2 separate regions of the Homo sapiens genome follow, and region 2 is linked to region 1. Evidence: fine-mapped expression QTL. A gene starts in region 1. The other region holds a variant in brackets. All regions are shown on one strand. Distances are from middle to middle. Region 1 holds the start of LINC01880 (long intergenic non-protein coding RNA 1880). Region 2 has its middle 78 kb from the start of LINC01881.

Region 1 (4,400 bases):
GAGGCTGGAGGGTGGGAGGAGGGAGAGGATCAGAAAGACTATCTATTGCGTACTAGGCTAATACCTGGGTGATGAAATAATCTGTACAACAAACCCCCCAGACATGAGTTTACCTACATAGCAAACCTGTACATGTAGGGTGATGAAATAATCTGTACAACAAACCCCCCAGACATGAGTTTACCTGTATAGCAAACCTGTACATGTAGGGTGATGAAATAATCTGTACAACAAACCCCCCAGACATGAGTTTACCTGTATAGCAAACCTGTACATGTAGGGTGATGAAATAATCTGTACAACAAACCCCCAGACATGAGTTTACCTACATAGCAAACCTGTACATGTAGGGTGATGAAATAATCTGTACAACAAACCCCCAGACATGAGTTTACCTGTATAGCAAACCTGTACATGTAGGGTGATGAAATAATCTGTACAACAAACCCCCCAGACATGAGTTTACCTACATAGCAAACCTGTACATGTAGGGTGATGAAATAATCTGTCCAACAAACCCCCAGACATGAGTTTACCTGTATAGCAAACCTGTACATGTAGGGTGATGAAATAATCTGTACAACAAACCCCCCAGACATGAGTTTACCTACACAGCAAACCTGTACATGTAGGGTGATGAAATAATCTGTACAACAAACCCCCCAGACATGAGTTTACCTGTATAGCAAACCTGTACATGTAGGGTGATGAAATAATCTGTACAACAAACCCCCAGACATGAGTTTACCTGTATAGCAAACCTGTACATGTAGGGTGATGAAATAATCTGTACAACAAACCCCCAGACATGAGTTTACCTGCATAGCAAACCTGTACATGTAGGGTGATGAAATAATCTGTCCAACAAACCCCCAGACATGAGTTTACCTGTATAGCAAACCTGTACATGTAGGGTGATGAAATAATCTGTACAACAAACCCCCCAGACATGAGTTTACCTACATAGCAAACCTGTACATGTAGGGTGATGAAATAATCTGTACAACAAACCCCCCAGACATGAGTTTACCTGTATAGCAAACCTGTACATGTAGGGTGATGAAATAATCTGTACAACAAACCCCCAGACATGAGTTTACCTGTATAGCAAACCTGTACATGTAGGGTGATGAAATAATCTGTACAACAAACCCCCCAGACATGAGTTTACCTGTATAGCAAACCTGTACATGTAGGGTGATGAAATAATCTGTACAACAAACCCCCAGACATGAGTTTACCTGTATAGCAAACCTGTACATGTAGGGTGATGAAATAATCTGTACAACAAACCCCCCAGACATGAGTTTACTTGTATAGCAAACCTGTACATGTAGGGTGATGAAATAATCTGTACAACAAACCCCCCAGACATGAGTTTACTTGTATAGCAAACCTGTACATGTAGGGTGATGAAATAATCTGTACAACAAACCCCCCAGACATGAGTTTACTTGTATAGCAAACCTGTACATGTAGGGTGATGAAATAATCTGTACAACAAACCCCCCAGACATGAGTTTACCTACATAGCAAACCTGTACATGTAGGGTGATGAAATAATCTGTACAACAAACCCCCAGACATGAGTTTACCTGTATAGCAAACCTGTACATGTAGCCCTGAGCCTAAAATAATAGATTATTTTAAAAAGATACTGGATTTATGAAGTCCCCAGGAGGTCAGGAGGAAGAGAGAACGCTTGAGACAAGCATGGTCAGTGAGGAGCTTGCAGGGATGGCAGAGGGGCAGGGAGCAGCAGAGTTTGAGTAGAGGAACCAGAAGCCCAGCCCTGGACCCATCTCTGCCTTCCTGTGTGTGCGCCTAACTCAGCTTTCAGGTGAGAGCTGGGGCTCAGGAGGTTATGTACTCACTTGCAGTTGCACGTCTAGGAATCCAGATGATGGTCCCATGTCTGCTGTGCCCCCGCCCTACTCTATTGCTAGGACAGCCAACCTCTACTCAGGGGCTGCAGCCGGTCAGCTGGCATCTACCAGGCTCAGCTGAGAGGGGTTCAGAGCCTAGAGGAGCTGTGGCATGCCAGGTCTAGGCTGCCTGTTGGCTGCTGTCAGGATGAATGCTGTTGTAGATAGATTCTTTTTGGCAACCAGAGACTTTCAGACGTCAATGGCCATGCAGTCTCCATGTTGCCCTTCCCATCCTGACACCACACACTCCTTATGCTGCAGCCACCATGGATGCCTGAGTGAACAGCCCTCAAATTCTATTCTAACTCCTTATTTAAAAGATAAGGAGACCCAAGACTGAGGAATTTGACATAAATAAGGAAACCGGCTTGCCTGAGCTGACTACTGCCTTTGGTCTCACGATAGCTGCCTGGTGGCCTCTGACTTTCACAGCTAGTACAACCTTCCAGCACCTTCCAGGATTGGTTTCTGAAAGAGGGGATTGTTTTTGCTCCCAGTCCCCCTAAACATTCTGTAGGTAATTACAGCACTCATGGCCCCATTTTCTCACTGTGTATTTGCCACCTTGGGTCTGTTCAGATGGCAAGCTCCCGAAAACCAGGCACCTCCTCCTTGTACCCATGGCACCATCGTGGTGCCTGGCTGCTGTCAGCACAGAGCATTAGCTCTGAGACACCTCCTCCTTGTACCCATGACACCGTCGTGGTGCCTGGCTGCTGTCAGCACAGAGCATTAGCTCTGAGACACCTCCTCCTTGTACCCATGACACCGTCGTGGTGCCTGGCTGCTGTCAGCACAGAGCATTAGCTCTGAGACACCTCCTCCTTGTACCCATGGCACCGTCGTGGTGCCTGGCTGCTGTCAGCACAGAGCATTAGCTCTGAGACACCTCCTCCTTGTACCCATGACACCGTCGTGGTGCCTGGCTGCTGTCAGCACAGAGCATTAGCTCTGAGACACCTCCTCCTTGTACCCATGACACCGTCGTGGTGCCTGGCTGCTGTCAGCACAGAGCATTAGCTCTGAGACACCTCCTCCTTGTACCCATGGCACCGTCATGGTGCCTGGCTGCTGTCAGCACAGAGCATTAGCTCTGAGACACCTCCTCCTTGTACCCATGACACCGTCGTGGTGCCTGGCTGCTGTCAGCACAGAGCATTAGCTCTGAGACACCTCCTCCTTGTACCCATGGCACCGTCGTGGTGCCTGGCTGCTGTCAGCACAGAGCATTAGCTCTGAGACACCTCCTCCTTGTACCCATGACACCGTCGTGGTGCCTGGCTGCTGCATTAGCTCTGAGACACTGCTGTGTTTCCCTCCTAGTTCTGCATCAGGTGGTACTGTTTTGTTTTGGTGGCTTGGTTCATTTTTTCTTATTGCAGTATTATCACTGCATAGAAAGCAGAAGTGGTCTTCCCATATTGTGTAAAATCCCCATTAAACATACACCACATGCTTCAGAGCGGCAGGAACAGGAAGAAGGATGGGATTCCCCGTGCCCGAAGGTATACCAAGTCTACATTGTCCTGAGAGTTAGGGACTACAAACACTTGTCCGTGCAGCATTTGGGAAGGTCAGAGGAGACGACTGTGTGGTGTGCATTGGAGAAGCGTGGGGCCCCTGTGCTCACCACCACCCTAAGCCCCTGTGAGGCAGGGGGCACCTGGTGCACTGTGACCAGCACTCTCCCAGCTTCCTGCCAGGAGGAGCCAGCTCCTTAGGTTCTGTAGGGTTTGACTTAAAGAAAATTTTAAAACGTGATTTTTCAATAAGTTGGTTGCCAAAAAATCTCTGTGGTTAAGGAGGCACCTCCCTCCTGGTCACTACTTCCCCCTGCCGAGCCTTCTGCCTGGGCAACTGCACCACAATCTCCAGCTGCACCATGTGTTTTGAAAAGCGTTTCTCCCCGCCCCTCTGGGGTTTTTCTCCTCCTCCAGTGGCGAAATTTCAGAGGGCACTGAGTGGGTTACTCTTCACAAGCACAGAGCTAAGCCCAGTCCTGGTAGAAAGCACACACAAAGAAGACCCAAGACCATGAATATGCTGACCTAAGTTGGACAGAACTGCTTCATGGCTTCCTGCTGTTACTCCATGGGTTTCTGATCCTGTTCTGTAGGTTTCTGCTGTTACTCTGAGTTCCTGCTATTACTCTGTGGGTTCCTGCTGTTACTCTGTAGGCTCTGCTATTACACTATGGGTTCTGATGTTACTCTGTGAATTCCTGCTGTTACTCTGTGGGCTCTGATGTTACACTGTGGGTCCTGTTTTTACTCTGTGGGTTCTGATATTACTCTGTGGACTCTGATGTTACTCTGTGGGTTCCTGCTATTTCTCTGTGTGTCCTGCTGTTACTCTCTGGGCTCTTGTGTTACTCTGTGGGTTCCGACATTACTCTGTGGGCTCTGCTGTTACTCTGTGGGTTCTGACGTTACTTTGTGGGCTCTGCTGTTACTCTGTGGGCTCTGATGTTAC
Region 2 (4,400 bases), 82 kb after region 1:
GGCTCATGCCTGCAATCCCAGCACTTTCAGGGGCCGAGGCGGGAGGATCGCTTGTGCTTAGGAGTTTGAGACTAGCCTGGGCAACATAGCAAGTCCCTGTCTCTACTTAAAAAAGAAAAAAAAAATGAGCCAGATGTGGTGGCACGCAGCTGTAGTCCCAGCTACATGGAAGACTGAGGTGGTAGGATCACTTGAGCCAGGAGGTTGAGGCTACAGTGAGCCATGATCACACCACTGCACTCCACCCTGGGTGACAGAGTGAGACCCTGTCTCAAACTTTTTTAAAAGGCCAGGCATGGTGGCTCATACCCATAATCCCAGTACTTTGGGAGGCCAAGGTGGGTGGATCACTTGAGCCCAGGAATTTGAGACCAGCCTGGGCAACATGGTGAAACCCCATCTCTACTAAAAGTCAAAAAAATTAGGTAGGTGTGTTGGTATACATTTGTAGTCTTGGCTCCTTGGAAGGCTGATGTGGGAGGATTGCTTAAGCCTAGGAGGTCGAGGCTACAGTGAGCCATGATTGCACCGTTGCATTCCAGCCTGGGCAAGAGTGAAACCCTGTCTCTCTCTGTCTCTGTCTGTCTCTCTCTCTCTCTGTCTCTTTCTCTCTCTCTGTGTCTCTCTCTCTCTCTCTCACACACACACACACACAACTTATAAGCATCTCTTGTTTCTCCTAAAATTACCCTTCTAGCATTAGCTGTCCCATTAAAATTCTAATAGGCTTTTTTGTGGACATCTGCAAATTAATTATAAAATTTATATGGAAATGCAAAGGGCCAAGTAAGGGCCCTTAAAAGGGACAAAAATGGGAGAAATTACTAGATACCATGGCTCACCATAAAAGCTGCCTTGATTAAGACAGTGTGGCAGTGGTCAGCAAACAGTGGTCTGCCCCTGGGCCAACTCTGCCCACCATCTGTTTCTGTATGGCCCATGAAGCAAGAATGATTTTTACATTTTTAAATGGTTGAAAATAATTGATTGGTGGGGACAATGCTGGTGGAGTCTGAAGTTGTCATGCAGTGACTCACTCAAGGTTAGGCAGATTTGGTGATATATGACACAGAGATGCAAAGAAATGCTGTAGCTGACACACACAGGGTGGCTCTGGGAGATGCAGAAGGAGCATGTCACCCAAAATAGAGCCAGATAGACATCTTTAAGGAAGGAGCAAAGGGGCTGCATCTTAAAGAATGAAGAAGGGATTTGTCATGAGAGATGGGGCAGGAAGTTCTTGAGAGGCAGAGGGAGAGCATGAGAATGCTGGGAAGGGAGGAGAGATTCTCACACATCTGGGAAGCTGACAATTCATCAGCATGTCCGGAAGGAAAATAAGGAGGAGGAGCAGAAATAGATGAGGCTGGATATAGAAGCAGGGCTGAAGCTGTGTTGATCGTGGTAAAGAGTTGTGATTCTATCCAGAAGGCAATAGGTAGCATTCTAAACAGAGATCTCTTAAAACAAGAGTCAGCAAATATTTTCTGCAAAGGGCTAAATGTTAAATATTTTAAGTTTTCCAAGCCATATGGTCTCTCTCTTAATGACTCAGGTCTTCCATTATACCATGAAAGTAACCAGAGACGTTTTTTAACACATGTA[T/C]TGGCTGTGTCCCATTACAACTTTACTTACAAACGCAGACTGTGTCAGACCTGGTCCATGCATGGTAGTTTGCCACACCCTGTTTTAGAAAGCTCAGGTTTATGATGTGATGGAGAATGCCTACAAGAGCTCTTGTTTTAAATGGTAGAGTGAATATACACTGGAATTCTATCCTGCTTGACCCAAGCTCTTGATAGCGAAAGGTAGAAAAGATAGATAGTAAATAGATAGATAGATGATAGGCAGGTAGATAGATAGATGATAGATAAAGAAAATACATAGCTGTTCCAGAAAACAGAAATGGATAATTTCATGAACCAAAAGCAGAGTAATATACTTTAGAAAGGAAGCAGGCTGGAAGACCCACAGTTGCAAAGCAAATAGAATTTCCAACTGCCTCTTGTAGCCCCTTCCTGGAAGTAGTCACAGCCCAGGGTGTTCAACTTCTTCCTCTGTTTTTTGTTTGTTTGTTGTTTGCTTTTCTGTGGGGTTTTTGTTGTTGTTGTTTGCTTTTTAAAAAAAATCCCTTTCCCTGCTTTTTTGTCACAGCAGCCTTTGTCACTTCAAACACCGCAAGTGTTCTTTAAAAAAAATTATATCAACCTTTCAACTAAAATGCAACATGTCTGAAACTTGGTATCTGGAGAGGTGAGAGGGACAAAGGAGCCGTTGTTACTGCACGTTTTCATTCTCCAAACTTCACCTTGCACACAGTAACAGACAATGCACAAAGCTACTTCCTTATGGACGGAAATTCTGAAATCCTTTTATGCCTGGCCTTTCCATCCTTCAACTTCCCCTCTCCCATGCTGTGAGTGATTGTATTGGACATTTTTGTTTTAATCTCAGTGACAGGGGAACACAGATAGCTCTAATATAGCTGTGACCCAGATGCTTCTGTTTCTAGCATGTATTAATTTTGCAGCAAACATTACATCCATAATTTTTCACTGTCCTTTGAAAATAATTAGGCAATATCTCATCTGAGGTAGGATGTTTCTAGGGGTTGTGTTCTGAGTGAGAAAAACTAATCTGTTCTCTTTCCACTGCATTCTAGGAACAGTAAGAGGACCTTGTGCATGAATAATTTGTTTCCACACTGCAGAGTGGGTAATAAGCAGATTAGTAAAAACAATTCTGCTTCACTTCAATAACAGCCTCCTCCAACTCATTTTTTCTCAACAAACTTATTTTTGCAGCAGAAGAATCCCAGACTTCTTAGAGAACCCAGTGACTTTTTGCACCTTAAATCTGTGAAATCCTCATGCTTTCTTCTGCCGTATCCATCGTTCAAACAAACATGAGGCAAAGCTAGACACATTCCTGAAGGAACCCAAGAAATTCCTCTCTTTCTCTCTCTGGAATGAAATGAATTCTCTAGACCACCAGTTCTAACCTTCAAAAACCAAACCTGTTTGTGAGATCTCCTTCAAATACTACTGTAGACCCCAGTGTTTATTCATTAAATTTTTTAAATATTTGTTTTATTTGGAATCAAAGTATTTGTAATTTTAGTATTTGTATTAATATAAGGGAGAAATGTTTAAATCTGTCTATGCCATATGTGCCTTCGGCTTATTGCCCAATTAATTGTAGCCTCAGGCTAAACTTTGGTTTCTGTCTTTAATTTTTGTCGGAAGAAATATAACCGGTCTCAAAACATCTGCTTTTATTGTAGGGACTCGTGCTGCCATCTCCATTCCTCTCTCTTTTCTTGCAATCTGGGTGGAAGTTCTTTAATATGAACATTTCAACCACCTTCACTCTACCATGTCCACTATCAGCACATTCAAACGTATCCAGCCAAGGGTATCATCTTAGGCCAGGGATTTTTTAGGAATCTATTTTGCTGTGATGCACCTGGTACCCCTTTGACTCACTTTATCACCCCAGGGTTCTTTTCATTTTAGAAGCCCAAGAGGGCAGAAAAAGAAGTAGGTGAGCAATTAAACTCTCCAAGTCAGGAGCGTCTCCCCTTGTGTTAAGCAATGTTGTAGAACATCGTATTTAGCAAGCTCCTAGCAGATGAGCCACGTGGCTGCTGAGCACACACGCCTGCTTGCTGCTGTGAGCTCAGACACCATCATTATGTCTTTTTCACCTCTGGAGGGAATTGTAAGCGCCACTTAATAACCTGTAAATCGTAGAGAGTTAAAGGTGTTTCCCTAAAACACTGATGACAGAATGAAAGGTAAGGAGTGTTAGCCACAGGTCAAAAGTGCAGGAAAGTCTCTCTATGTGGGTTGTTGAAGAAATGCAGGTCTTTTTTCTTTTGGAAGTCTCCCTAGAATGGGGTCAAGGACTCTGCCCATTCTAGGATGAAAAACTGGGATATTAGACACCCTCAGATATTTATCCCAAGCTTTCATTTTGGGCTCTTAATTAGTTCATCCATCACAATCGCAAATGCTAAGCAGGGCAGTTGAATCTGTCTACAGTCCAAATCAGCACCTTCTTTTAAAGTTGAGTTTCTTATTATTCTCACCTGATATACCTTATTTATCCCACACCCACCCCAATAACATATCGTGCTCACTGTTATCTTTAAGAAAACACTTGAATTTAACTCAGCCTGGAGCTCTCTTCACATGTCTTGTCCAGATCCAGTTCGGACTCATTCTTCAGCCGTGCATCAGTCAATGGGGGCTAGGTTAAACTGTGGTGACAAACAACCTCCAAATTTCAGTGGCTCAAAAATCTTCTTCCTCATTTATTTACATTTCATCATGGGTCAGGTGAGAGGTAGCTCTGTGCTGTGTCATCCTAACACAGGAATCCAGACGGAAGGAGGGACG

Evidence for each region. PIP is the estimated chance that this variant, and not a neighbour inherited with it, causes the effect.
Region 2: its variant is fine-mapped to the expression of LINC01880 in atrial appendage (GTEx, PIP above 0.99).

The regions. Positions count from the first base shown.
Region 1 is chr2:242,082,222-242,086,621 of GRCh38, forward strand. It overlaps LINC01880 (long intergenic non-protein coding RNA 1880), which reads right to left and starts at 1,917. Exons shown (of 4, transcript NR_146651.1): 1 at 1,875-1,917.
Region 2 is chr2:242,164,383-242,168,782 of GRCh38, forward strand. No RefSeq gene overlaps it. Among named protein-coding and RNA genes, the nearest start is that of LINC01881, 78 kb to the left of the region's middle. The variant T/C (reference allele first, on the strand shown) is at 1,606.